7 separate regions of the Homo sapiens genome follow, and all the other regions are linked to region 3. Evidence: fine-mapped expression QTL. A gene starts in region 3. Each other region holds a variant in brackets. All regions are shown on one strand. Distances are from middle to middle.

Region 1 (4,100 bases), 59 kb after region 3:
TAATTTTTCATATTCACAGGGAACAAAATTAGAAGCCATAAGAATAACTTCCTGATTACTTGGCATCAGAACAGTCCACGGCTTTAGAAAATGTCTTGCAGTCAACCACAAACCTAGGGAACAGGTAGGGTTGTAAAGTGTCTTTTACGGGGGGGAAAAAGCACATACCATTTCAAGGCTCGAAAAAATGAGGTTACTTTTAGAAATTTCAGCAATATTTTTAACTTGCTTTCAGATATTTTAAACTACTTACCACCAGAAGTATAAACCTAAACATTATGTGATTATAGCAGAAATGGAACTACTACATAAGGGAAAAAGAAACAAACCACAAGTGAATCAACGACAACCCTCAAGAACCAGACGCTACTACTGACAACCATTAGGGTTTCTTGGCTGCTTGAATCAATTCATTCCCAGCTCTGCTTTGAGCTGGCACTAATTTAAAGGAGACAAAAATGTTGGAGCTAAGGCTGCCAGATTTAGGAAATATAAATACAGCAAGCCCAGTTACACTTTAATTTCAGACAAACAACGAATCTTTTTTTTAGTACAAGTATGCTCCCACGTAATATTTATAGTAAAAATTTATTTTAAAAATTTTACAAAAATTCACTGTTTATCTGAAATTCATATCAACTAGGCATCCTGTATTTTATCTGGCAAACCTAGCTGGAGCCAAAAGGTAGAATAGTAATCAATCCAATTTCCTCATTTTTCAGCAGAAACTGAGAACCAAAGAAAGGAACTGACTTGCTTAAGCTTAAGCCAAAGATCAGGGAAGTAAGTTGGTTTTGAAAAGAGAAAACCTTTCCACTAGGTCACCTTGGGTACCACTTACAGTACATTCCACTTCCAATTCTTGCTCAACTCACAGAAGCACCAAGCAGACAAGGTGTAAAAGAGTATGGTTTCCCTCTTGTAACATTAAACTTCAAGTTTCAGTACATCTCTTAAAACCCTAGTCTCCAAAATCAATTAGGAAACTATGTGCTACTCTTAAAAAAAAAAAACCTGATAATTTTGTCTACACACTACCACCTCATACTGTTTATATTTTCACTCACCATATGAAACAGGACATCCTTCTCTCCTGAACTCAGTTCTCTCAAAATCCAAAATTCTCTTGCTCCAGGGTCTCAAGATTTCACACAAGAGCATGTTCACATTATTTCATGACTCTCAACGACTTGAGTTCGTATACTCCTTCAGTTTTCATGCTTTTTAGCGTTTTCATGTTTTTCAGATATGTCCTAACCCATTCGGTTGGCCTCAAAAGTCTCCCATTCCCATTCTGTATCGGAGCAACTAAATCAGCAATGAGGAATGAAGTCTCACTATTATAAACATACACTTACTTCCCCAGGGACTGGGATGCAAGGAAACATGGAAAGAGAAACGTCTTTATCAGAAATTTTGGGGCCAAAAAGGCCCCGAAGTATGGTATGTGAGGGTTATGCTAGCTGTCTAATTACATAGCATGCAATCGAACAAAATAAAGAGAAAAATAACAGAAAACTCCACACATGCAAAGAATTCATTTTCCAGATCCCATCAAATTAAAAAATACACAAAACATTTCCTCAACTCCATACAGAGCTCCTCAACCTATGACTTGCAGGGGTCCTCAAGGGTAGTTAGCGTGGGGATGGGTGGTGAGAATAGTGATAGTGAGGCAGAAAAGGGTTCCATTTTTATTTATTTATTTTTACAATTTGGGCTTCCAAATAGGTTTTAAGAAAAAAAGGTTTTGTTGCATTAAAGAAACATGAAAACGGTAACATAAACCATTATAACCCCCACCCAATAAGTTTTCTATTAAAAACTTCACCCAGGTGGACAGGAATACGAATCGTTTAAGATGAAAACAGATTTAAAGACCAAAGAAAAGTTAGCAATTAAAGGACAAAATAGTTACCTATGCTTTCCTTCTGGCACCCCGAATGTACGCAGGTCTCTCGAGATCACACGTCAGACGTGGAAGGTCCTCACGGATCACTAGTCCGAGCTTCCATTTTACAGATGTGCACACTCAGGCCAAAGACGACGGCTGACGGGCCAACGTCTCACAGCCGGTCAGGGAAAGGAATTCACCTGGCACCCGGGGCGGCCGGCCTAGAGCCCTGGGCGCTGACCGTTTCTGCGATTCCTGGTTCCGCT[C/T]GGCCCGGCCCCAGGGGCAGACGCGAGCACCGGGGCAGAGAGACCCACTGCCTGGAGTCGCGCTGCCTCTCCGCGGGCTCCACGCCGGGCCCGCAGCGCAGGGATGGGTCCTTGGCGGCCGCCCCCACCCAGCCCAGCCCAGCCCAGCCCAGCCCAGCCCACCTGTAGCCGACGCGCTGCCGGCAGCCACACCCCCTGCCCGGGCCGGGGGCTCGGCCGCCCTTATTGGCGGCCAGCGGCGGCGGCTGCGCGCGGCGTGGGGGACTCCGATCCTAGAGGCCGCAGGAGTTACCTCAGGTGGGCTCTGAGCTGGCGGCGCTACCGCCCTGGCCCGCCTCGAGCATGCCCGAGACGTGGACGCAGCAAGGCCGCACCTCCCCCAGCGCGTCGCCTGTTTACACCCTACGCCCCTCCGCGGGAGGACACCGAGTGGCAGGTCACGTGACGCGGGCGTCACGTGTCCGGCCGAGTTGGGTGGAGGCGTTGCCCCGGCGACTGCAGCGCGCTGGGGGCGGGCTGCAGCGGGTGCCGCCGCGCGGCCTTTCTGTGCTTCCACCCCTTCGCAGTGCCCAGGCGACAACCCACTGGGCTTGGAACCGAAAAGACTTCCCCAGCTCTGTGTGTGTCGTTTAGTGTCTCCTGGCCCTGACTACATGTTATTAATATTAGTGTTTTGGAAGGAAAAGGAAATTTTGTCTGGCAAAAGGATGTTTTACTTGGAGAAGAAGATGGAAAATACTTTCTTACCTGAGGCTATCAAACGGGAGGAAAAGCGAAGGAATAAGTAATAACGGTTTTTGCCTTGACAGATTTTTGTTTGCTTTCGCTCCCTAATCTGGACTGAAAGATTCCCACAGCATAGCCTCTCAGCCAGAGAAAGCACGTGAAGGAGGTTTATACGACTTCTTACTTTTAAGTTGTATTTTAATTTTTATGGGGGAATCATCTCTGTGTACATACAGACGTCTAAATATTTGATTCTGCATTCATCTCTTTTTTTTTTTTTTGAGACGGAGTCTCACTCTGTAGCCCAGGCTGGAGTGCAGTGGTACGATCTCGGCTCACTGCAAGCTCCACCTCCTGGGTTCACGCCATTCTCCTGCCTCAGCCTCCCCAGTAGCTGGGACTACAGGCGCCCGCCACCACGCCCGGCTATTTTTTTGTGTTTTTAGTAGAGACGAGGTTTCACCGTGTTAGCCAGGATGGTCTCAATCTCCTGACCTCGTGATCCGCCTGCCTCTGCCTGCCAAAGTGCTGGGAATACAGGCATGAGCCACTGCACCGGGCCAGACTCTGCATTCATCTTTTGTCCACATAAAACTCTCATTATTCCTCTGTCACTTTCATCACTGTCTACCAAATCCAATTTTCCTACATCAAACTTCCCAGAAATAGTTTCAACCACTGCCAGTTTTATTTCTCCCATAATCATGCATAAAAGATGAATAATTTGTATTTCTTAGTAAATTCATGAGTGAATTATAAGCAAATCCTCTCAAATATTCCATAGTTGTTCTGTTGTCCCGGAGTGATCTATCATATAGCTAATCAATTCCTCCCTACAATTCTGACCACTTTGAATTTTTGGCTAAGTAAAAAGCAGATTGTCAGGTTCAAAACAGTGTGCTCAAGATATCCTCTGGATCAGCAAGGTCAAAACATCTCCATTTCTATAACACACTTACAATACAGTATTACAAAGAGCAGAAAAATGATGAATTTTCTCCATTTGTCTTTTACTGTGGAAAATAGGTTATCAAGGCCAGTTGCCACAACCTGGTTGGCTCTACTGCTTCTGGCAGCAGGTGTTCCATGAAGGTAGTACCAATATCTTCCATTGGTATAGCTTATGCCTAGACCAGGCTTGTTGAGCCAAAGGGTTGGCTGACTGATGAATGGATATGGAATCCTGTCATCCTTCTACAGGAAGCGGCAGAACC
Region 2 (4,100 bases), 140 kb after region 3:
TTTTGAGACGGAGTTTCACTTTTGTTGCCCAGGCTGGAGTGCAATGGTGTGATCTTGGCTCACCACAACCTCCGCCTCCCAGATTCAAGTGATTCTCCTGCCTCAGCCTCCCTAGTAGCTGGGATTACAGGCATGTGCCACCACGCCCGGCTAATTTTTTTGCATTTTTAGTAGAGATTTCTCCCAACAGGGGTTTCTCCATGTTCGTCAGGCTGGTCTCAAACTCTCAACCTCAGGTGATCCGCCTGCCTCGGCCTCCCAAAGTGCTGGGATTACAGGCGTAAGCCACTGTGCCCAGCCTACAACCATCTTTGACAAACCTGACAAAAACAAGACGTAGGGAAATGATTCCCTATTTAATAAATGGTGCTGGGAAAACTGGCTAGCCATATGTAGAAAGCTGAAACTGGATCCCTTCCTTACACCTTATACAAAAATTAATTCAAGATGGATTAAAGACTTAAATGTTAGACCTGAAACCATAAAAACCCTAGAAGAAAACCTAGGCAATACCATTCAGGACATAGGCATGAGCACGGACTTCATGACTAAAACACCAAAAGCAATGGCAACAAAAGCCAAAATAGACAAATGGGATCTAATTAAACTAAAGAGCTTCTGCACAGCAAAAGAAACTACCATCAGAGTGAACAGGCAACCTACAGAATGGGAAAAAAATTTTGCAATCTACCCATCTGACAGAGGGCTAATATCCAGAATCTACAAAGAACTTAGACAAATTTTCAAGAAAAAAACAACCGCATCAAAAAGTGGGCAAAGGATATGAACAGACAGTTCTCAAAAGAAGATATTTATGCAGCCAACAGACACATGAAAAAACACTCATCATCACTGGTCATCAGAAAAATGCAAATCAAAACCACAGTGAGATACCATCTCACACCAGTTAGAATGGCGATCATTAGAAAGTTAGGAAACAACAGATGCTGGAGAGGATGTGTAGAAATAGGAACACTTTTACACTGTTGGTGGGACTGTAAATTAGTTCAACCGTTGTGGAAAACAGTGTGGCAATTCCTCAAGGATCTAGAACTAGAAATACCATTTGACCCAGCGATCCCATTACTGGGTATATACCCAAAGGATTATAAATCATGCCACTATAAAGACACATGCACACGTATGTTTACTGTGGCACAATTCACAACAGCAAAGACTTGGAACCAACCCAAATGTCCATCAGTGATAGAGTGGATTAAGAATATGTGGCACATATACACCATGGAATACTATGCAGCCATAAAAAAAGGATGAGTTCATGTCCTTTGCATGGACATGGATGAAGCTGGAAACCATCATTCTCAGCAAACTGTCACAAGGACAGAAAACCAAACACCGCCATGTTCTCACTCATAGATGGGAACTCAACAATGAGAACACTTGGACACAGGGAGGGGAACATCACACACTGGGGCCTGTCGTGGGGAGTGAGATGGGGGGAGGGATAGCATTAAGAGAAATACGCAATATAAATGACGAGTTAGTCGGTGCAGAAAACCAACATGGCACATGTATAGCTATGTACCAAACCTGCACGTTGTGCACATGTACCCTAGAACTTAAAAAAAAAAAAAAAATCAATTCCCAAAGCATTTCTCTCATTTCTTCTGAAAAGTTTCTAAAAACACAACTCCAAGGATGAAATGGAAGTTAAAGGTAAACAGGCAATAGCGCTGAATACGTAATTTCAGTAACTCAGAATTTTCTCCAACCTCTGCTCTAAAGAAGCTTAGCTACAGAAGAGCAGTTACCTTTGAAACATTTTCCCCAACATAAAGATATCCGGAATGTGAAGCTGCCATTAAAACTGTGACACAGATCTACATTTACTGATACATCAAAACATCCCTAAAGTTCGAAATACGAGCTACAGAATCACATCAACCGCCTAACTTGTCTGTAGCCTAAACTCTAGTCCGGAGTTCATCTGCAAGCGGAATTGGGAAGTATTTCAGAGCCAGCATCTCCTCGCGCCATCCAGGTACCTACACACTTGAGGCCACCGAGTCACCTGCGCAGCCGTTGCTCCTCCAAGACCAATCCGGGCTCCCCAGACCCACCGGCCTGAATCTGGAGGACAGCAGTCCGCGTGACAACAGCGACTCGGAGATCAGCACCCGTCGGGAAAGCCGCGTACC[C/T]GTTGAAGCTGGCGTCACGCCCAAAGGAACAAACGCCAGAGCGTGTGTCCTGGGCAAAGGCGGCCCGCCGCTCCGGTCCCCGGGCAGCAGCGGCCGGCGTCAGGCCGCAAGGCGAGGGGCGGGGACAGGACTCTACCCGGCAGCCCAGCGCCGAGCGCCCGCGCCACTCCGGCCTTGCGCCATTCCGGCCCCACGACGGCCGGCGGCGGCAGCGCGGCTGGGCTCAGCGGCTCGCAGCCCGGGCGCCCCCCCTGCCGGCCGCTCGCTAGCTCAGCCTCACCCGCAGTCTTGTCCGCTGGCTCGCTCGCCCGCCTACAGGTCGACAGGGCCCAACGACCCGGCGAGCAACTTCACGGAAGGCACTGGCCGACAACGCTCCGCTGCCGCCGCGCCCCGCCCCTTTGTGACACCACCTACCAATCGCTGGACGGCGCTTTCGCTGCCCTCCAATCAGCGCGGGCGGGGGCAGGCCTGGCCCCCGGACGTGGGCGGTTGCCGGGGCGCCAGGGCCCTGGGGCCTTCTTGGCATTCGCTGGAGGTTGTGAGTTACGAGGCCCGGATGTTGATCTTTTATTACTAGCAACACTGGACCCCTGACTCGTGCCCACGCGGGCGTCTGGAGGGCAGCCGCATGGCCTGCTGGGAACGGCGGGGTTGAAGCCGGAGCCGCCCTCCGTGAGACCCACCGGGGATCCTCTTCCAGGCGCCTGATTTGCTGGAGATAGGCGATACAGGCAGACGCTGTCCAGTCGGTGGCCTCTCCAGAGTGAGGGGCGCTCCTGGTGCGTTTGGGCCGGCCTGTCCTAACAAATCTGCTTTAGGCTTCACCGTCCCCTAATGTTTCTGGCCTCAATTGCCTCATCTGGAAAATGGGGGCATTACCGTGCCTGCTTGAAGACAAAGGCGAAAACAGATAACTTTCTGTAGTCCTCATACAATTTACTGAGAACTGTAGGCCAGGCAATGGAGTAGGCACCCTGGGCTCAAATCCCAGCGTTGGGTAAGCCCAGCCACACCTCCTGCTCCAGTTTCCAAGCTGCTGAGCTGCGGTGTAAACAGTAACTGGCTTCAAGCCAACACCTGCCTTTCAACCTAACATGGGAGCCCACTGCCTCGTTCCGTTCCCCCTACCGATTTTCCAACTCCGTGAACCTCCTTCACTAAGTGGGTTACTCAGCTGACAAAGAATGTCATCTCACTCCCACTGCGGGTTCACTCATCCTCGACTTCTGGCTCAGAGGAGCCAGTCTAATATGAAACTAAACATCTAATCTGTGTCTCCTGTCCTCTCTCATTCTTCTGAGACCCTACCCACCAACTTATCTCCACAGTTCAACGAACTATTGAGCATACACTGGGGGAGTATGGTGAGGCACTGGGCATTGATTCACCAGTCTCGCCGTTGGTTCCTTCTGAAACTCCACATATGCTTAATGCTAAATAGATTGGAGACCTTTGAGGACAGAGCTATGATGGTAATCATCTTTGCATTCCTGAGCCTAGAATAGGGCCTGTGATGGAGACTTACTGAGTAAAAACCTTAGCGTTTCTCACCCTTGCCTGCCCACTTCATTCACACTGGAGAATTGACAGCATGGACCGTGGAGTCAGGCAGGTGTGTTTAAAGCCTTGCCTCCCAATACCAGAAGCTCCATTACCTGGCCAAGTCATTCATTCTTTACAACATCATCATCATTATCATCTGCCATTCTTCAAGTGCCAGATAGTTGATAAGGGTCTTTACGTATTCTCTCCCCATCACAATCCTGCAAAGTTGGTAGTGAAATCCCTCGTCTACAAAGGAGTAAACAAAAGCCAATTAAAGTAGAACAATTTACCTATAATCAAACAGCTCTATGTCGGAAAGCCATATTTAAACTAGGACACAATACAAAAATCCAACCTTGTTCCATTATTCCACATTGCTTCCAGATTTTAGCT
Region 3 (4,100 bases):
TAATAAAAATTTAATAAAAATAATGAAACTAAAAAAGATACTCTCCCAGTACCTGTTCTTCCCTCTCCTTTTCTTTGGTCTTACTTCTGTAGACTCTAGCAGAGATGGCATCCTGGGATGGAATGGCAGAGATCTGATGCAGTGGCATGCTCATCCCAACCTCTTATCTGGTCGTCTTCTTCACAGAAGAGAGTCTCCACTGGTAGAGTCATTTTGGGCCATGGATTTCAAGCTGAGAGAAAATGAAGAGAGAATAAACATAACTCAGCTAAAACACTTTAAATTTCCAAGAGTGAGCTTAACATTTTATACTTATATTCATATGTATATTTAAATAAGTTACGGCAACATAAATGTTTGGTCTTCAAAAACAATAGAAGATGAATGTCTAAGGGGAAAATTCTAACATTTCTCATAATAAGATGGGAGCACCTGAAAGAGGCAGGTGGATCACGTACATGTATAATCAGAGATATAATCTTCCATTGGCTACTTAGGATTAAAACAAAGCAGTGCCACCATTTATTTTAAGAATATTTTTGAAGTTAAACTTTTTTTTTTATCATGACCAAGCATTTGTCCTGAAATAAGCAGTGATCTTTCCTTAAAACCACTGTCTGTGAGTCCACATAATGGTGAGATCAGAGGTTAGGAAGTCCAAATTAAACTCAAGGTATCTATGATCCATACTTAACCTTCCAAAAGTAGAGACTCTACACGAGCTGTTGGCAAACTATTCCTATAAAGGGCAAGATACATATTTTAGGCACTGTGGTCCAAGTGTGTTCCAGCTAATTAACTCTGCCACTGTAGCATGAAAGCACCCATAGAGAGCATGTAAATGGGCCGGGTGCGGTGGCTCATGCCTGTAATCCCAGCACTTTGGGAGGCCAAGGCGGGCAAATCACGAGGTCAGGAGATCGAGACCACCCTGGCTAACACGGTGAAACCCTGTCTCTACTAAAAATACAAAAAATTAGCCAGGCATGGTGGCGGGCGCCTGTAGTCGCAGCTACTCAGGAGGCTGAGGCAGGAGAATGGCACAAACCCAGGAGGCGGAGCTCGCAGTGAGCCAAGATCGCACCACTGCACTCCAGCCTGGGTAACACAGCGAGACTCCAACCCCCCAACCTCCCCCCCACCAAAAAAAAAAGAGTATGTACATGAATGAGCATAGTTATGTTCCAATAAAACTTTATTTACAAAAATAGGCAGCAGGCTAGATTTGGCCCACCAGACTATAGTTTGCCAAACACTGCCGTAAAGGGTTTCCTAGGGAATATGAAGGGTCACCATGACATGCCTAAGAACCATGAGAAAGGCTGCCTTTAGGTAAAATAACAGTGTATGCATAAACTGTCTTCAGTGATTCCAGGTACTCCTGCCCTGTTTCTGGTTTTCTCTTACGCATCCCCCAAAATGTCTAATAATTGAATTGTGTGTTGTTCTTTCTCCCCACTTACCCACTGAGATCTATCCCACTCTGTATACAAAACCAATTAAACGTAAATTATCCAGAAGGTTTAATGTAGTAAAATGTTTCATGTTGTTCAAATTTTAACAGAAAATGGAAGCCTTCAACCAAAAGAATGAATCTCGAATTTGGAGATTTTCATTTATTAACCATGTGCTGGGGTAGGGGGTGGGGACAGGTGAGGCAGTAGGAAAAGGTAGGGTAAACAACAGGGCCTGACAACCCCAAGGTCACATTTGATAAGCAGTCACTTACTCTACCTCTCCCCAAACTCTACTCTGGATCAAAGGCAGGTGTTTGTAAGGCTGGTGCCAATTCTTAGTAGTGTCACTAAGCAAGCAGAGGAGCACCAGGAATCACGAAATGGCTTCCTTCACACAACTCTAGAATCAATGAACAACAAAAAGGAACAAAAACTGGGAGGGATCAACACATAGAAGAAAATTAGCTAAAATAATAATCTGTTTATAAAGTCTAGTTTTACAGTAAGTGAGTGACCATTGATAATAACAACAAAAAAAGGAAAATAGAATAGGGGATGTTAGTGTCTAGGTATCACACACCACCTACTCTATTTCAAGCCTTTGATGAGGCTGGCATAAGATGGAGCACTACTGTGCCCAAGAAACAGTCTGAATGTTTGTATTCAAGCACGTCACACAAAACAAGAGGCACTTACTGCGGAGCTGCCTTATACTCCCTGGGAGATCACAATAGTCAGTGGTAAGCAGTTTTTTCATCACTAATGCACTAACGTCCTCTATTACAGATGACAAACTCCATGGGGCCTCTTGGAATACTTGGTCAAACTGACGATATCCACAGCCCTATACCTACCATGCCAAAAGCTACCTGTGGTGCTTCTGATATAATCATCATTATTACATCATTGGTACATGCCCATGACAAGCCTGAGAAGGGCTATTTATGGCACAGAAACACAGATGCAAGAGGGTCTCAAATTTTTTACAGTTTTGAAGGACATCCCTCCTCACTGTCATTGAAGTTAGTCTTTTGATATGTACCACCACAACAAAGCAACAGACCTATAAGTTTGCCTGAAACAATCTCCCTCCTATGCCACACATATTTAGGATAAAAATGAGTTTACAAACAAACGATAAAACAGGCCATGCCATTTTTTATGTGAAGATTTACATGAAAAATACAAATCATATATTACATTATTTTCTTTGCATAATTTCCAAACATCTTTTATATCAACTAAATTAATCTTTACACAGAATAACAGTTAAACCTCAGCACTATGCCTCACAATCCAGGCATGAGGGCTTCAATTTGACTAATGCTAACTTGCAAAATACAGCCCACCTAACATGAACATTCACATCTAGAAGAGATACTGCCAAAGCTGGTTGTTGAAGAAATTGGAAATGGATGTCCATGTTCATGGATCAGAAGATTTAATATTGTTAAAATGGCAATTCTTCCCAAGTTGACATAGAGAGTCAAAGCAATCTCTATCAAAAACTGAGCTGACTTCTTTACAGAAATTTGACAAGCTGATCTGAAAATTTATATAAAATTCAAGGGACTCAGATCTGCCAAAACAACCTTGAAAAAGAACAAAGTTGGAGAGCTCACATTTCCAGATTGCAAAACTTACAACAAAGGAACAGTAATCAAGACTGTGTCATACTGGAATATGAATAGATATATCAATGGAATAGAATTTAGGGCCCAGAAATAAACCCACGTATCTATAGTCAGCTGATTTTCAAGAAGGGTGCCAAGATCACTTCTTGGGGAAAGAGTACTGTTTTCAACAAATGGTGCTGGGACAACTAGATAGCCACATGCAAAAGAAATTTGGATCTCTTCCTCACACAAAAGGAAAAACAGACAAACTACACATCATCAGAATAAAAACTTTTGTGCTTCAAAAGACACCACTGAGAAAGGGAAAACACAGCCAGTCATAATGGTTCACACCTATAATCCCAGAACTTTGGGAGGCCAAGGCAAGAGAATCTCTTGAGGCCAGAACTCAAGAAAGGCCTGGGCAATATAGCAATACTCTACCTCTATTTATAAATGTTAAAAAAAAAAAAGTCTAAAGACAACTGACAGAAGAAAAAGTTTGCAAATCATATATGTAATAAGGGACTTGTATCTAGAATATATAAACAACTCTCTTACAACTCAGTAACATAAGGGCAAGGCCAGGTGCAAGTAGCTCACGCCTATCATCTCAGCATTTTCGGAGGCTGAGGTGGGAGGACTGCTTCAGGCCAGGAGTTCAAAACCAGTGTGTGAAACATAGCGAGGCCCCATCTCTACCAAAATAATAATAATAATAATAATAATAATAATAATAATAATAATAATAAAGACAAATAACCCAATGAAAAATGGGTTAATCAACATCATTAGCCATCATGGAAATACAAATCAAAACTATTAGATATTACTTTAATTATGTTCATAATAAAAGACAAACAAGTGTTAGCAAGGATGTTGTGACACTGAAACCCTCATATACTGCTAGTGAGGATCTATGCAGTCGTTTTGAAAAATAGTCTGGCTCTTTCTCAAAAGGTTAAACATGTTATCATATGACCCAACAACTTCAATCCTAGGGTATATACACCAAAGAGAAATGCAA
Region 4 (4,100 bases), 66 kb after region 3:
GTAAGGACTAATGGGGAGCTTGCAAACAAAGGAAGAAACTAGCAATAACCTAGTAAAGTGTTGCAAAGCTATGTGGTAGAGCCAACATTGAATTCACGTTTCCTGGTCCCAAATCTAAATGCCTTTTCCTTTTTTTTTGTTGTTGTTGTTGTTGTTGCCTTGATATAATACTTTTTCCTTTTTATTAATAACCTTAATAAAGATATAGTTTCACCAGACTCGAGTTCACCAGACTGGAATTCAGAGGAGAGATATAGAGATATAAATTGAAGATTAGGCAGTGGTATTCAAAAAGCCACATGATTGGATGAGATCACACAGAGAATTATTTTCATATCTTTGACCTCAACCCAAAATACAAAATACATTTTACATATTAACCAAATACATGTATATAATTTAAAAGTTTCCAGAAACAAATTTACCATTCCTACGTGTGATGCACGATTTCTTCTGTTTAAATTTTTCACTCCGAACTCAATTGATTTTTTTAACCCAGTAACAGTTGTGGCCTACAGTTTGAAAATCATTGAAAGTCACCGATCTAGGACGTTCATAAGTCCGAATTGCATAATTGCAGCAAAAGAAGAGACTGAAAGGCTAGACATCTGGTACTGTAGAGATAAGAAGGAAATTTAGAAGAAGCAATCAGAGTTAAGAGGAGAACTGGAACAGAGGAGTCCTGATCAAGTGAAGAAATGTTTCAGGAGACAAGTGCCTAAAGGTGTCATTTGCACTGAGAGGCTGAGTCAGTTGAGGATTGACCTCTGAACTGTCAGTGTAGAGATCACTGAGACCTTGGGAACAGAGCAATTAAGATAAAGTGGTAGGATTAAAAGCCTGATTCTTGAGATAACAGATGGTGACGACAAGTAAATACAATCATTGCTTTCTTGCTGTAAAGGAGAGCAGGGAAATAGGATCATAGTAGGTAAGAGATGCAGGATTGAGGTTTTCTGTTTAAATATTTATATGCTAATACAAATGCTGTAATAACTGGATGTACAAGAAAGTGACAACTGTAAGAAGGAAAATCTTGAGTAGATTGGAGGAGTCATCCTTAGATAAGGAAAAAACAAGAGAAGGGGAATAGCAGGCCACAGATACAGATAGCTTGGTAGATTCGTTGTTGAACATGAAACTGACCCAATAGTCCCATAGACAGTTCTTTTGGCCAAACATAGAAAGTGACCCTTCTTTTCTTAAAGCTCGAAACTTACATTTGTTTTATCTGAGTTCCTTTCTCGGGAAGGACCCCTGGCCTCTGAAAAAGTATCAAATAATTGAAACTTACCAGATTACCACATTCAGACAATGAGATGCCAGACCCTTCCTTTTGTTTCCTTACCGCTCCCTAGTTCGTGTTTTCTAACACACTGTTACACTTCTTCCCCGCTATATAAACCCCAAATTTTAGTCAGGGAGATGGATTTGAGACTGACCTCCCATCTCCTTGGCTGCAACACCTGATTAAAGTCTTCTTCCTCAGCAGTGAGCACCAAGACTTAGACAGAATCCCCGATGTTTCTGTATCATGTGGAATTTCTCTTCGATTGTTGATAGTTTAATAAAATAAAAGCTGAGCATGACAAGAGGGAGAGAGGTGCTGGTGGTTTGAGAAAGGAGAGCATGTGACTATCATCCAGGAGCTGCTACAGCCCAGCCCAGCCCTAGGATCTCCCACGTGGATGACTGCTGTATATTTCTCTCAACTTCCATCCTTGCCTCCTTACAGTCTTTTTTTTCCTACACAATCGCCAAAGTGACTTTTCAAAACCATGTCAACCCCAGTATTTTCCCAATTCAGAATAAAATCCAGAAGTGTTTGGCTCTAAGTCCTGCATGATCTAGCCCCTATTTCCCATCGTCCTCTCACTTGCTTTGCTCTAGCCACCTGACTTCCTTGCTGTTCCTTAGTCTCCTCAAGAGTAGAACATTTCCTTCCATTTCTGAGAGGTGACAGCGTGCGCCCTCGCTCGCTCTCGGCGCCTCCTCGAC[C/A]TTGGCGCCCACTCTGGCGGCGCTTGAGGAGCCCTTCAGCCCACCACTGCACTGTGGGACCCCCTTTCTGGGCTGGCCAAGGCCGGAGCCGGCACCTTCAGCTTGCAGGGAGGTGTGGAGGAGGCGTGAGCAGGAACCGGGGCTGCGCGCGGCGCTTGCGGGCCAGCTGGAGTTCCCGGTGGGAGTGGGCTTGGCGGACCGGCACTGGGAGCGGCCTGCCGGCCCTGCCGCCCCGGGCAATGAGGGGCTTAGCACCCAGGCCAGCGGCTGCGGAGGGTGTGCTGGGTCCCCCAGCAGTGCCGGCCCACCGGCGCTGCACTCCATTTCTCGCCGGGCCTTAGCTGCCTCCCTGCAGGGCAGGGCTCTGGACCTGCAGCCAGCCATGCCTGAGCCTCCCCCTCCTCCGTGGGCTCCTGTGCGGCCAGAGCCTCTCCGACCAGCGCCGCCCCCTGCTCCAGGGCACCCAGTCCCATCGACCACCCAAGGGCTGAGCAGTGCGGGCGCACGGCGCGGGACTGGCAGGCAGCTCCACCTGCAGCCCTGGTGTGGGATCCACTGGGTGATGCCAGCTGGGCTTCTGAGTCTGGTGGGGACGTGGAGAACCTTTATGTCTAGCTCAGGGATTGTAAATACACCAATCGGCACTCTGTATCTAGCTCAAGGTTTGTAAACACACCAATCAGCACCCTGTGTCTAGCTCAGGGTTTGTGAATGCACCAATGGACACTCTGTATCTAGCTAATCTGGTGGGGAGGTGGAGAACTTTTGTGTCTAGCTCAGGGATTGTAAACGCAACAATCAGTGCCCTGTCAAAACAGACCACTTGGCTCTACCAATCAGCAGGATGTGGGTGGGGCCAGATAAGAGAGTAAAAGCAGGTTGCCTGAGCCAGCAGTGGCAACCCCCTTGGGTTACCTTCCACACTGTGGAAACTTTGTTATTTCGCTCTTTGCAGTAAATCTTGCTGCTGTTCACTCTTTGGGTCCACACTGCCTTTATGAGCTGTAACACTCACCATGAAGGTCTGCAGCTTCACTCCTGAAGCCAGCGAGACCACAAACCCACCGGGAGGAATGAACAGCTGCAGACGCGCGGCCTTAAGAGCTGTAACACTCACCAGGAAGGTCCGCAGCTTCACTCCTAAGCCAGCGAGACCAGGAACCCCACCAGAAGGAAAAAACTCCGAACACATCTGAACATCAGAAGGAACAAACTCCGGACACGCTGCCTTTGAGAACTGTGACACTCACCGTGAGGGTCCGCGGCTTCATTCCTGAAGTCAGTGAGACCAAGAACCCACCAATTCCGGACATGTTTCCTCACTTCCTTTATAGCTTATTTAAATGTGACTTTCTCGAGGTTGTCTTTGACCATCCTTTGTGAAACAGCACTCCTATCAATGTCACCTTCCCCTGCTTGGTTTTTGTTATTAGCACTTATTGCCATCTCTGGCAGAGATTTATAGCACATTAAATATCCATTTGCTACCAGCTCCTTTCATATAACCCTTGCAATTAGGTCAGGCCCTATAAACAATGGGCTGTGAGCAAAAAGGGGCATATACACATCTAGGCAAAAGCACCAAATGCAACCCTCCAGCTCTGTCTTCCCCTGCTGCAGTGATCTAGACCACATGTTGCAGTGGTGAAGCCACAGAGTGGACACAGCCTAAATCACTGAGTCACTGCCTGGGTCAGCTGTTCTGGGAAGTTGCCTGGCTCAGTGAGTTTTCCATGGTGGAAAAATAAACTTTGTTGTGTTAAATCACTGAGCTTTTGGGATTGATTTGTTACCACAGCATAATGTATTATCTGATATGGTCTAAATTGTGTCCCTCCACCCCCAAAATTCATATGTTGAAGTCCTAACTCCCAGATCTCAGAATGTGACTGCATTTTGAGATAGGGTCCTTAAAGAGGAGGTTAAAAAAGGAGATTAGAGTGGGCCCTAATCCAATATGACAGATGTCCTCATAAGAAGAGGTGATTAGGTCGGGTGCGGTGGCTTACACCTGTAATTCCAGCACTTTGAGAGGCCAAGGTGGGCAGATGAGGTCAGGAGTTCGAGACTAGCCTAACCAATGTGGTGAAACCCCATCTCTA
Region 5 (4,000 bases), 94 kb before region 3:
TTCCATGTGTGGGGTAGCATTATATGTCTATTGGACAGCACTGTTTTCGAGGGAGAGACGCCCAAGGACCCCACCTTCCACAATACTTATAGCAAGTGACACAGCTGTGTGCTCTGGGACAGTTCTCCCTCCCCAGCCATGACCACTGTGCTGCAGTGACACTGGTCTTTCCCAGCACCTAAAGTCTGGCCATGCCCCTTCCTGGCCGCTCTTGGCTGCAGCCCTGCCACCCACCTCATTCTTTCTGTCAACCCCTCCAATACCCCATGTCTTCATGTAAAAATGGGCAATGCCAGCACCTGCTGCCGGCTCCCGTGAGAACTCACTGTCGGGTGCTGAGGCTGTGCTGGGCTCTCAATAAGGGGGCAACGTGCAGGGCTGCTGGCATGGAGGGACCTGGGGCTGGGTGCTGGTGTGGGGGCACGAAAGTGAGGCTGTGTGTACAGAGGCATCAGCAACCAGGTCACCACAGAGCTTGGGGATTTTATTTTCTGGCATTAAGAGGTGATTGAGGAGGCAGTTAACATGACATGATTTGCATTTTGGAAAAGAAAAAAACTCACCTTGTCCCAGTGTGGAGTGGAAACTGGAAAGGGAAGACAGGTCCAGCCTCTGCTACAGGAGGTGCCTGGCCACAGGTGTGGGCTCCAGGCAGAGCTCAAGCTGCAGACCCTGATCTGGGAGGCTCAGTACCAGGAGGGCCCCAAGCCTTTAAACAGGAGGAGCTGACTTAGGGCAAGAAAAGAAGACAGGAGCACCAGGGCAGACCCTGGGGAGCTCCAGCATTTCAGGGAAGAGGAGAGGGAGGAAAGTATGAGAGACCAAGGAGAGGCAGTAGAAGAGGGAGCAGGGCAAGGAGGGAAGAGGGGGACAGCGATCCTCCCCCTCCGCTGCTGGGCCTTCGGCCTGCCCGCTCCTTCCATGCTGCCAGCTCCTGAGTAACTGTGAGCCGAGCGATCACTGTCCCCACATGACAGATGCTGAAGCCGGAGCTTAGAAAGCCCAGTGTGTCATCCAGAGTCATGCAGGTTGTAAGTAATATGGCTGGGACAGGAAATACCACCGCAGGGCCCTTTACCCCCTCCAGGCTCTTCTGATTCCAAAGTCACTGTTAAAGAAATTCAGATACTTCTGGAACTTCCCAAGAGGCGAAGTTCTCCAACAACTATACTCTGAAGTGAAATATAGCAGTGTGTTTCCTTTCCCCCAATGTATCAGCTCAACCAAATCCCGGGAGATGAGAACCCTATTTTCCTCCCTTCGGATGCAAAATACGACTGGCTTTTGGCCAAAATCTGGGTGCGTTCCAGTGACTTCCACGTCCACCAGACCATCACCCACCTTCTGCGAACACATCTGGTGTCTGAGGTTTTTGGCATTGCAATGTACCGCCAGCTGCCTGCTGTGCACCCCATTTTCAAGGTACAGCCAGCTACCGCCCCACCTGCTATGGGAGGGCATCTGAGATGTGGAGTGGGAGGGATCACTGACATCCCACAGGGG[G/GA]ACCTGTGGCTGGGAGTGGGTGGCAGAAAGGGAGCCCTGGAGAGATGTTCTCAGAGTCAGTAATGCCCCTAAAGGAAGAAAACAGCTAGGAGCCTGCTGTTCCCCAGGACACGCGGCTGGGGCATGGGCCTGACACACGGGCCTCGCTGGCCAGCCAGTAGAGTTGGAAAAGGCAAATGAGTTCATGGTGATCCTCGGCTGATGCTGATGGCCGCCCCTGCCATCACTCTCCGTCCCTGTTCTCGAATCCTACAAGCATTGGCTGCTGGGGTGACTGCATGCTAAAAGTACCCATGTGCCTCAGTTTCCTCACCAGTAAAACAGGTCAAATAGTACAGCTGCCTTACAGAATGATGGTCAGATTAAGACAGTGAACTCAGGGAGCAAAGAGGTAAGCATTGTACAAGTGCTGGCCAGGACCCTCTGAATCATTATCATGCTTAGTAAGCATCAGAGGGGTGCAGGCCTCCAGCACTTATTCAGCAGAAAGATCAGCACCCAGCCTTCACTTCCTCCCTGCGCCCAGCATCATCCTATAGGGCAGGCCTGGGTGGGGGAGCTGCGGGTCCCTGAGGCACCAGGTCACCTGACTGGGCCCCCTCTGAGGCCTCCTCCTCTCCCCTCCCCAGCTGCTGGTGGCACACGTGAGATTCACCATTGCAATCAACACCAAGGCCCGTGAGCAGCTCATCTGCGAGTGTGGCCTCTTTGACAAGGTGGGTGCCCTCCTACCCTACTTGTTGCCTGGAAGAGCCCAGCCTGGCCGCCTTCACTCCCTATCTGAGATCTAGACACCCTTTCAGGAGGCCTGGAAGGGTGAAGGCTGGAGTCTGCTCAGAGCACTGGCTCCAGCATCCTCCTGATGTCTCCAGCCCGTGCCATTCAGCCAGGAGCACTCCTCCAGGCGCACCACCAGGTCTTCCTTCTCACTGATGGCTCCTGGTCCCCTCCTCCCACCCCTCCCCTCTCCCAGCCTCTGGGACCTGGGTGTAGACCCCCCTCTGGAACACACTCCTTATGGCCCCCTGACCTCCTACGCACCAGGAACCTGTGTCTGCCTCTTAATCTGCCACACCCCTGCCACCCTGACCTGGACCTCCCCAGCACTCTGCTTCCCGGGTCCCAACCCTCCCAACCCACTGTCTCCTGCATCGGGGACTCCAGGCCCTGCCCAGCCCTCGCATCCCTCAGGTAGCACCCCACCTCGTTTTGAGCCCTCTGTAGCCTTACCAAGCTTGGACTCTCACATGGGCCCTTGCCCCAACCTTCCTCCTTTCCCCAGCCCATTAGTGACCAGGCCAGATGACCACTGAAGTTGAGACACTGTTTGGGCTGCAAATGACAAAACCCAACTCAAACCAGCTGCAGCTGGACAAGACATGCCTTATCTCAAATACCTGGACACAATAGAGGGTCGGGGGCCTCAGCCAGAAATGGATCCAGGGACTCAAGCAATGCCCCAGGGTGCATGCACACTGGCTCCCTCTTTCTGTCTCTTTCACCTGTGTTGGCATCACACTCTCCTGCTGCAGACAGGCCCCCATGGGAGAGGGCACAGGAGCTCATCATAGTAGCTCCACCTCAGGTTCTCATGTGGCCATTATCTCCCAGCCGCATCTAAACAGAAAGTGCTGGGGGGCAGCTCTGGTTGGTCCTGCTTGGGCTGAATGCCCACCGTGGACCAATCTCTGGCACCCCAGCACCCAAGTCCTTCTTCAAAACCTCTGTGGCACCGACAGCCCAGCCCCCTGGGTGTATTTGCATGTGTGTGTGTGCACGTGGACACACATATGTGCCAGTGAGCTTGTGAGTGTGTCTGCATCACTCAGAAGCCGGGATCGGGATCAGGACCAGGATCCCTCCTTGTGGGTCTCTCCAGCCCTCACCTGAGCACACAACAGGCCCTCAACAGAGTTGCATGGGTCCTGGAAACTGAGGGTCACTGAGAGCAATGACTGAGGGTCGTGTGCTCAGCACTAGAGCAGACTTCACAGCCCAGGCCCGCTGGTGCTGGGGTCCCCCACACACCTGCCCACGCCTGCTGCCCTCCTGTGGCTGGGAGCGCACCCTTCCCTCTTGTACTCTGCAGCCCCACGGTTCAGTCCCTTGCATTGGATTGGGCGGGAGGCTCCTCCCTAGCACCTCTCCACCCGGCTGCCCTTGTCATTCTCTGCGTTAAACATCCCTCCCCCATCTCACAGGACAAGGGCTTGCACCTCTGCCTGCCTGGCCTCCTCGCCTCCCCTGGCACATTTCCTCAGGGATGGGTCTGGACAGCTGTGGGAGGAGCCACCCGCTCAGGGCACTCTACCTCCCACTCCAGGCCAACGCCACAGGGGGCGGTGGGCACGTGCAGATGGTGCAGAGGGCCATGAAGGACCTGACCTATGCCTCCCTGTGCTTTCCCGAGGCCATCAAGGCCCGGGGCATGGAGAGCAAAGAAGACATCCCCTACTACTTCTACCGGGACGACGGGCTCCTGGTGTGGGAAGCCATC
Region 6 (4,000 bases), 100 kb before region 3:
CTTTACATTGACGGGAAAATACCAATACTCCAGTGGAAAAATGAGCAGAGAATATGAATAGGCAATTCACAAAAGAAGAAATGTAAATGGGCAACCAGCATATGGAAAAACTCCTAACTTCACCTGTAGTTAGAGAAATGCAAATGAAAGTTAACAATGAGATATCATTTCTGACATGCCTGGTTGGAAAAACAAAGGGGTAACTCCCAGACACCAGCAAGGACGGAGCCCCATGCTCTGCTCATGAGTTGTTGCAGCCTGGCAGTGTTCACGGGATAACTGGTGGGCCTGGGCAGCCCAAGGTCAGAGCTTCGGCCAGCACCGGAGCAAGGTCAGAGCTTCGGCCAGCACCGGAGCAGATCCCACAGCGCCTGCTGTACCAGGTGCATGTTGCAGTGGGCGGTCAGAGGGTCCTGGGGTTGAGGCTGTCGTGGCGAGGACAGTTGTGTTACCGAGCTGGACTGGGATCTGCTTGCCCAGTGCAGCAAAACCAAACACTGAGATTGGGATATAATCTACGAGAACACAAGGCATTTATTGCGGGGACCAAAAAAGGAGAATTGGGCAGCTCACTCTTAAGACCGGAACTCCCTGATGGCTTGCAGGTAAGGGTTTTTAAAGGCAGAGTGAATTTCAGGAATTGCAGAAGTTAACAGGCAAAATCATTAATCAATACATGGAGGGTACACATTGGTTTTGGCCTAAAAGGGCGGGATATCTTGAAGTGGGGGTGGGCTTCCAGGTCATAGGTAGATTCAAAAATTTGTTGTTTTGAAATTGGTTAAGGAAGAGAAGTTTCATTTAAAAATTTGGGTTACCAGAAAGGAATGTTAGCTGTGGCTTGTGGGCGGGACTTCCCCCAGGCCCCCCAGGAAGAAATTTAGAACAAAGAGCCTGCTCAGAGTTCAGTCCTCAGTTCCGTCTTATCTGAGGTCTCTGTGCCAGTGGATCGGTTTGGTGGGGGTCTGGGTTTCTGAAAAACAACTCAGAGACACATGTTCAGGGGTTCTCTTTAGTTTCCAGAGGGAACCAAACAGCCCAGGACTCTGGCTTCCTTGGCTGTTGTTTTAGGCTGCTGTTACCCTCTTGTTTGTCAAGTTGCTCATTTATTTCTCAGGGCTAGCTAGGTGCCTGGAACTTCCCTTCAAGGAACTCGGGATTTTCCTTCATTTCCATGCCCTGTTGCGGGGCTGGGGGGCTACAGTGCCCTAAGAGGAGGCCCCTGCCCCGTCTCAATTGGAGGAGCACTGGAGGGGACTTTATTGTTTAAGTGTTCTGACAGCCAGTAGCACTGAACAGGTGTGCACCAGGAGAGTGAAACTGTCTGAGGAACAGTAGGGCAGGCACTGTCTACTCGAAAACATACCCAAACCCCCAAGGCTCAGCCTTCGCTAGCAGCCACTCAGCAGAAATGAAAGCACAAATGTGTGTGGGTAGCAACAGGAGCATAGTTTGTGATGGGGAAAAAAATTGAAAACAGTCTGAAGGCAGAAGAGGATTGAGTGAGTGAGCCCTTCCATGTCCTCACCATAAAATGTTGAGGCGTCTTTGAAAGGAATGCTTTGGTTCCCTTCCAGCTGACCTGGAGGGGTCTCCACAATGAGTTAACAGTGGAAAAACAAGACACAAGGGACCGATAAAGGATACATATCTGTCGTATACAAATAGCTCCTTCAAACTGCTAAGGCAATGGGCATGGTCTCACTTATGTAAAATGAATGCAAGGATGCAGCAGGCCTACTGTGCCAGCATGGGGACACAAGGACGCAGTGTCACCAGGTAGGAACACAGTGATGGCCCAGTGGGGGACAGGTGAGCAAAACAAAGAGACAGATGTTGATTATAATCATATTCAGTTGATGGAAAATTGGACAGATAAATGTGCACACATGCAAAGACCTATGAAAGGAGGCTCCCCAGAATTTGGTGGTTATCCCTGGGCGCTGGAAGATGAGATGATGTTTTCTTTCTCAGGCTCTCCTGTCATGACTCAGATTTCTTTTTACGATAAGCACATATTCTTTTCTAATCAGAAACGCAAAGCTACTTCCTTACCCAAAAAACAAATTTAAGAAACACAAATTGCTCAGGGCAAGTTCTGGCATCCCATGGCAGGCCAAAATCCTGGACAGGAGTGGGAGGATGTGAAGGATGGGTTGGGGAAGGCCCAGCTCAGTGGTACAAGAGCTCAAGGAGATGGGCAGGTGAGGCCCGGTCAGGCCGGGAGGTGAAGAGAAGCAGAAGGGAGAGTGATGGGCTGAAATAGGCAGAGCACTGGGCCCATCCTCATTCAGCTCTTTTTTTACTGGTCAGAACAGTTTTTTTTTTTTTAATATATAAAATTTTAGATTCAGGTACATGTGCAGGTTTGTTACATGGTTATATTGCATAA[T/C]GCTGGGGTTAGGCTTCTATTGAACCCATCACTCAAATACTGAGCATAGTACCCAATACCCAGTTTTTCAACCCTTTCCTCCCTCCCTCCCCTTCCTGGAGTCCCCAGTGTCTTTTGTTCCCACTTTTATGCCCATGTGTACACAATGCTTAGCTCCCACTTATAAATAAGAACATGCAGTATTCGATTTTCTGTTTCTGGGTTAATTCACTTAAGATTATGGCTTAAGTGCCAATCCTAAGCTGCATCCATGTTGCTGCAAAGAACACGATTTCATTCTTTTTTATGGCTATGTAGTATTCCTTGGAGTACATGTATCACATTTTCTTTATCTGGTGCCACTATTGATGGGCACCTAGGTTGATTACATGATTTTGATATTGTGAACAGTGCTGCAATAAACATATGTGTGCCTATGTCCTTTTGGTAAAACAATTTCTTTTCCTTTGGGTAGGTACACAGTAATGGGGTTGTTGGGTCAACTGGTAATTCTATTTGCAGTTCTTTGCAAAATCTCCAAACTGCTTTCCACAGGGATGGAAGTAATTTACACTGCCACCAACAGTGTGTAAGCATTCCCTTTTGTCTGCATCCTGCCAACATCTGTCATTTTTTTACTTTTTAATAATAGCCATTCTGACTGGTATCCCTTTGTGGTTTTAATTTGCATTTCTCTGATGATTAGTGATGTTGGGCATTTTTTCATATGTTTGTTGGCCACTTGTATGTCTTCTTTTGAGAAGTGTCTGTTCCTGTCCTTTGCCCACTTTTTAATGGTGGTGTTTTTTCTTAAGTTCCTCATAGATTCTGGGTATTAGTCGTTTGTGGATGCATAGTTGCAAATATTTTCTCTCATTCTGTAGGTTGTCTGTTTACTTTGTTGATAGTTTGTTTTGCTGTGCAGAAGCTCTTTAATTTGATTAAGTCTCATTTGTCAATTTTTGTTTTTGTTGCATATGCCTTTGAGGTCTAGTCATAAATTCTTTGCCTAGGAAATGTCCATAAGATTTTTTCCTAGGTTTTCTTCTAGAATGTTTAAAGTTTGAAGTCTTACATTTAAGTCTGTAATCCATCTAGAGGTAATTTTTGTATATGGTGAGAGGTAGGGGCCCAGCGTCATTCTTCTGCATATAGGTAGCCAGTTTTTCCAACACTATTTATTGAATAGGATGTCCTTTCCTTATTGTTTATTTTTGTTGATTTTGTCAAAAATCAGTTGGTTGCAGGTATATGGCTTTATTTCTGGGTTCTCTGTTCTGTTCCATTGATCTCTGTGCCTATTTTTGTACCAGTATACCATGCTGTTTTTGTTACTGTAGTCTTGTAGTATAGTTTGAAGTCAGGTAATGTGATGCCTCCAGCTTTGTATTTTTGCCTAGGATTGCTTTGGCTATTCGGCTATTTTTTGGTTCCATATGAATTTTAGGATTTTTTTTTCTAATTCTGTGAAAAATGATGTTGATAATTTGATAGGAATTGTGTTGTATCTGTAGATTGCTTTCTTCCAACCCATTAGCTGGGATGTTTTTCCATTTTTTTGTGTCATCTATGATTTCTTTCATCAGTGTTTTATAGTTCTCTCTGTAGAGCTCTTTCACCTCCTTGGCT
Region 7 (4,100 bases), 62 kb before region 3:
AGCACTGGTGGAGGGGACAGAAGGCCACAGCTGAAGGGACTTTTTCAGGACTGTCTTCCTCCATGCTGCAGCTGAGGATCTTGCAAATATAATTTGTTTTCAATAAATTACATTGAAGACAATGATTTCTGAGCAAAGGTGGCTTCACAGTCCCAGAAACTAAAGATGTAACCATATAAAAATCCAAAATCACCAGAAATAACACGGTGAAAGGGGCTGTGTTTGTGAGTTACTTATCACTCACAAGGACCCTTTAATACTGTTGATTTCCTTTAAATATTGAACTTTTCAAATATAGTCGAAATACATTTTCATTGCCAAGAGGCAATAAAATATTTCCTCTGAGAGAATTCTGGGGCAGTGGCCAAAGCACTGGCTTTTGACCCCAAAGTCTTCCCTCTGTGTTCTGGGGCCAGTCCACTGAGCACACTACCGAGCAGGAGTTTAATCATTTAAAAAATGAGGTCAACAATCTACAGGGCTGCTACTAGGATCAAATAAAGTCAAGGGAGATGCAGAAATGCAGCACACACCACTCCAGGCACACCTCCAGTGTGGAACAAGACTTCCGTGTGACTACCACTCTTGATTCTTGATGACCTAGAGAGTAAACCTGCAGGTCTCATATCTGCTACAAAATGCCTCATTCCAACCAAGGTAACCACCGTCCACCCACCTGGGAAGAAAACAGCTTCTGCTCAGGCTACTCATCTGGCCAGCCCTGGCCCAAGATGCACAGAACTCTAAGAGCGAACCCTGAGCCGCGGAGTATACTACTGACAGAAACATGGCAGGCAGGAAAAATGACCCTCACTTCCTCTAGGCCTAGGCCCTCCTTTCCCGGCAACTGGTGGCCTTTCCCACCCCTCCTCCTCCTCCCAGGAACACTCCCACATTCCAACCCAGCATGATGGCCCCTCCTCCTTTCTGAGGAGAAAGGGCTTTTCATCCCTGTTATCATATCCTTGTACCCTATTCATTTCTTTCACTGCACCTATCAAGGTTTATAAGAAGATGTTACTGGGATATGTTAACTTAGAAGCTGTTGCTGATTGGTCTGGTACACACTAGGTGTTTAGGGAACATTTGCTCAATGAACTAAACAGCTACCCTCTGGGGAGACTGTGCCTCTACAACAGAGATTCTCAAACTTGTTGGCCACAGGACCTCCTTAAACTCTTAAAAATTACTGAGGCCCTCACAAAAAGCTTTTGTTTACACGGGTTCCATCTCTCCATCTTTGCTATATTAGAACATCTTAAAACACAGGAACATATTCCACCAGCTAAGGAAGATGCTATCCTGCATGTTGCTTAGCTTCTGGAACTCCGCTGTATACTTGTGGAAGAATGAGAGTGAAAAATGGAAATAATCTTGGTATTATTGGGAAATTGTTTTAAACCTGCCCCCCTTCCACCTTCAGGAGACTGAACCAAACTTCAGCCAAAAACTAAACTGTAACAGTCAGATGAAAAAATACTGCAAAGACAGTCGGTTAAACTTTGCAAAAGGGGAGCTGAACGGAAACAC[T/C]GCCTCAGTGCTGTCAGGATTCGAGTGAGGCTCAGTGGTGCTGAGGCCACCTGATGCCATGAAACTCCTCCAATTCATCCTTTGTTTTTGTCACTTAGGAATAAATATCCTGTTTTGGGACAGCTGTTTTCTTCAGAATAAATTAAGAAAGCACATTTTGCCTTATTTGTAACCCATAAGTTTTGAGTAACCTGAGCGTGTCACTGGTCAACTCTGCATTCAGAAACAGAAAGAAGCAAACCCTGGTCTTGACAATCACATCCAGGTCTGCCCTCGCGTAATAAAAGTGGGTCAGCAAGAATTCCTTGTAAGGAATGTCCCTCTGATACGTGACATTCTGCTGTATCTCATCCCTGTCTAATGGCAACAATAACCGGAAAATATTCAGGAGGCCTAGGAGGGTTAGTGCTCAAATTCATTGAGATGTGCTTGCCAAGCAATAGAGCAATCATTGTAATTGCTCATTAAACATGTCCAGTCTGATTCTACCCAGGAATATTTGATTAACAAGAGGTACATATCACAGTCTGCAAGGCCCCAGCCTTGGGCAACTGCCAGAGCCTACAGAGCCAGGCTGGCTAGGGGGCTGGCAGAGAGATACTCGTGCTACGGGCTTCCACTGCCTTCTCCCTGGGGTAAGTGCTGCCAATCATGAACTTGCTCAAGAAATTGTGTCACCTGGACCAAGTTTGATTCCCAGGGTTGAATGAGAAGGCTTCCCTGGGGATAAAATAACATTGTGTCTATGTACTGCCCTTTTTGCACCACAATCTTCCTCTGAGAGGCATCAAGAGAGGCTCCAAAAAGTCCAGCCCCTATGATTAGCCTAGCCTAGGCCAATTCCTGGTATTAAAGAAATTCCAGCTGAATAGAGTGGGTTTAAGCCTCCTCTGCGAATTTCAATCAGCCTCTATAGGATTTTAGGCCAAAGTACTCACATGAACAGCCACAGTCAACACAATCTTGTGGTTACAGCCACCTGCAATAGGGTGCCATGAGAGCCATCACCCCCAGCCACTGAAGATGCCTTTCATTGTCCATCTAAAGTACTGGACTTTCCAAGCAGGTGACAAATGATCTTTCTACTACAGTTTAACCTCATCCTGGTTGGCTCCTTTCCACCTCTCACATCTGCTTTACATGTCTCTCCTGAGCCACATCTTCTCTGAGCAGTCCTTCAACTTGGGTTCCCTGTAATTCTCTACCTAAGCTCCTTACTGTTCCCTTTGTAGGAATTCTCTCCATCCGTGGTATCGTATAGAGGTCTGCGTACTTCCCTCTGCTGTTTGGTTCAGCATTCAAAGCACAATTTCTGGCACACAGTTAGGTGCTGGACAAAATCTCAATGTGTGCAATCCTCGTAAACTCTGCATGGCCTCCTTGTCTCCATGTTAGAGATGAGACATATTGTCAAATGGTAAGACAGCCTGCAGGTGGGGGCAGTGGTGGCACAGGACACAACGTCCTGAACAGGCAGTCACCTCACGTCACCTGAGTCCACCCTGAGGCCATGCCCAGTACACTGTGCATCGCCCCTGCCAGCCATACTCTATGGCTTCCTGGTACCCCGAGACAATGGCCCCTTGACAGGCAGAGGCTCACAGCAGAGATGGAAAGTTGGCTTGCCCCATCCCCACCCCTCCCTTCTCTCTACCACACAGCCTCCTGAATACCCATCTGTCAGAGCTCTATCTCACAAAGGGCCATCACAATGAGTTTAGGTGATATAATGAAGAACATGCTTTTTAATAGTTATATTTTCACATTAAAAAGTTAACCAATCAAAATCTAGAGGAGGGGCTTCAAGATGGCTGACTAGAGGCATCTGGTACTTACCTCCTCTACAAAGAAGAACCAAAATAGCGAGGAAGAATCAGACTTTGAATAGATCATCTAACAGAGAACACGAATTCAACAGAGAAGTGACAGAAAACACCTAGAGCAGGCAAGGAGAGGGCAGTCAGGCAAGGCAGCCAAGAGGTTCCCCAGTGTGGGGAAAGGGGAAGCGAGCGATCCCCAGCGGTCCACATTCCTACCATGCACTTCTGCAATTCCAGCCATGACAGAGCCCTAGACCCTCACAGGCCTTGAGGCTAACAGAGGGAGCTGCCTGGAGATGGCGAGAAGGCATTGCTCCAGGGAGGGAGCTCGTGATGGGTCCCACACACCCCTGGAGTCCAAGGCAGCTACAAGAAGACACCATACTGAGAGCCCAGTCCTCAGGAGACTGCATCCTGCTGGGGGCCCAACAGTCCCTGCTTCTTCACATCCCTGGAACCCCACTGATATTCCTCACCACAGCCATTGCAGCAGCTAGCTGCTGCTGCCAGGGATGAAGTGCAAACCATTTGGCAAAGACCCTGCTGCTTCCAGCAGTGAAGCCACTGCACGTTTTCACAAGCGCCAAGGACAAAGTGAGCAAAGTGTGCACTCCCTAGCCGCTGGCATACCTATTGCCACTGAAAGCAACCCCACTCTCCCCAGTAGTAGGGCTGCAGTATAGCCACTGCTGCCTCCACCAGAGCATTCTGCCAGGGCCTTGGAATCACCCAGCCCCTACCTAAGACTGT

Which allele goes with the higher level. Alleles are on the strand shown, and positions count from the first base shown. SD is a standard deviation of normalised expression in the study named. Not every link is listed here.
For the expression in visceral fat of the gene that starts at base 2,314 in region 3, allele T in region 6 goes with a higher level than allele C (small effect, 0.27 SD a copy in GTEx).

Evidence for each region. PIP is the estimated chance that this variant, and not a neighbour inherited with it, causes the effect.
Region 1: its variant is fine-mapped to the expression of MARCHF8 in whole blood (TOPMed, PIP above 0.99). The same link has a PIP of 0.9 or more in blood mononuclear cells, lung, monocytes, monocytes after LPS, monocytes after Pam3CSK4 and sun-exposed skin.
Region 2: its variant is fine-mapped to the expression of MARCHF8 in blood mononuclear cells (TOPMed, PIP 0.98).
Region 4: its variant is fine-mapped to the expression of MARCHF8 in transverse colon (GTEx, PIP 0.97).
Region 5: its variant is fine-mapped to the expression of MARCHF8 in whole blood (TOPMed, PIP 0.99).
Region 6: its variant is fine-mapped to the expression of MARCHF8 in visceral fat (GTEx, PIP 0.97).
Region 7: its variant is fine-mapped to the expression of MARCHF8 in blood mononuclear cells (TOPMed, PIP above 0.99).

The regions. Positions count from the first base shown.
Region 1 is chr10:45,592,317-45,596,416 of GRCh38, forward strand. It overlaps a transcript of MARCHF8 not described here. Among named protein-coding and RNA genes, the nearest start is that of MARCHF8, 59 kb to the left of the region's middle. RefSeq lists silencers at 2,078-2,147, 2,248-2,407, 2,688-2,757. The variant C/T (reference allele first, on the strand shown) is at 2,161.
Region 2 is chr10:45,670,240-45,674,339 of GRCh38, forward strand. ZFAND4 (zinc finger AN1-type containing 4) reads right to left here and starts at 2,533. Exons shown (of 10, transcript NM_174890.4): 1 at 2,011-2,533. RefSeq lists a silencer at 2,116-2,835. The variant C/T (reference allele first, on the strand shown) is at 2,160.
Region 3 is chr10:45,533,058-45,537,157 of GRCh38, forward strand. It overlaps MARCHF8 (membrane associated ring-CH-type finger 8), which reads right to left and starts at 2,314. Exons shown (of 8, transcript NM_001282866.2): 1 at 2,154-2,314; 2 at 53-232. The coding sequence starts at 154.
Region 4 is chr10:45,598,628-45,602,727 of GRCh38, forward strand. No RefSeq gene overlaps it. Among named protein-coding and RNA genes, the nearest start is that of MARCHF8, 65 kb to the left of the region's middle. The variant C/A (reference allele first, on the strand shown) is at 1,999.
Region 5 is chr10:45,439,212-45,443,211 of GRCh38, forward strand. It overlaps ALOX5 (arachidonate 5-lipoxygenase), which reads left to right. Exons shown (of 14, transcript NM_000698.5): 8 at 1,219-1,422; 9 at 2,133-2,219; 10 at 3,827-4,000. Among named protein-coding and RNA genes, the nearest start is that of ALOX5, 67 kb to the left of the region's middle. RefSeq lists a silencer at 2,371-2,602 and enhancers at 2,959-3,729, 3,730-4,000. The variant G/GA (reference allele first, on the strand shown) is at 1,504.
Region 6 is chr10:45,432,945-45,436,944 of GRCh38, forward strand. The region is part of intron 7 of ALOX5 (arachidonate 5-lipoxygenase); the gene reads left to right. Among named protein-coding and RNA genes, the nearest start is that of ALOX5, 61 kb to the left of the region's middle. RefSeq lists enhancers at 1-361, 362-900. The variant T/C (reference allele first, on the strand shown) is at 2,393.
Region 7 is chr10:45,471,286-45,475,385 of GRCh38, forward strand. The region is part of intron 3 of MARCHF8 (membrane associated ring-CH-type finger 8); the gene reads right to left. All of the region lies in intron 1 of LOC105378286 (a long non-coding RNA gene), which reads left to right. Among named protein-coding and RNA genes, the nearest start is that of MARCHF8, 62 kb to the right of the region's middle. RefSeq lists enhancers at 3,564-4,065, 4,066-4,100. The variant T/C (reference allele first, on the strand shown) is at 1,531.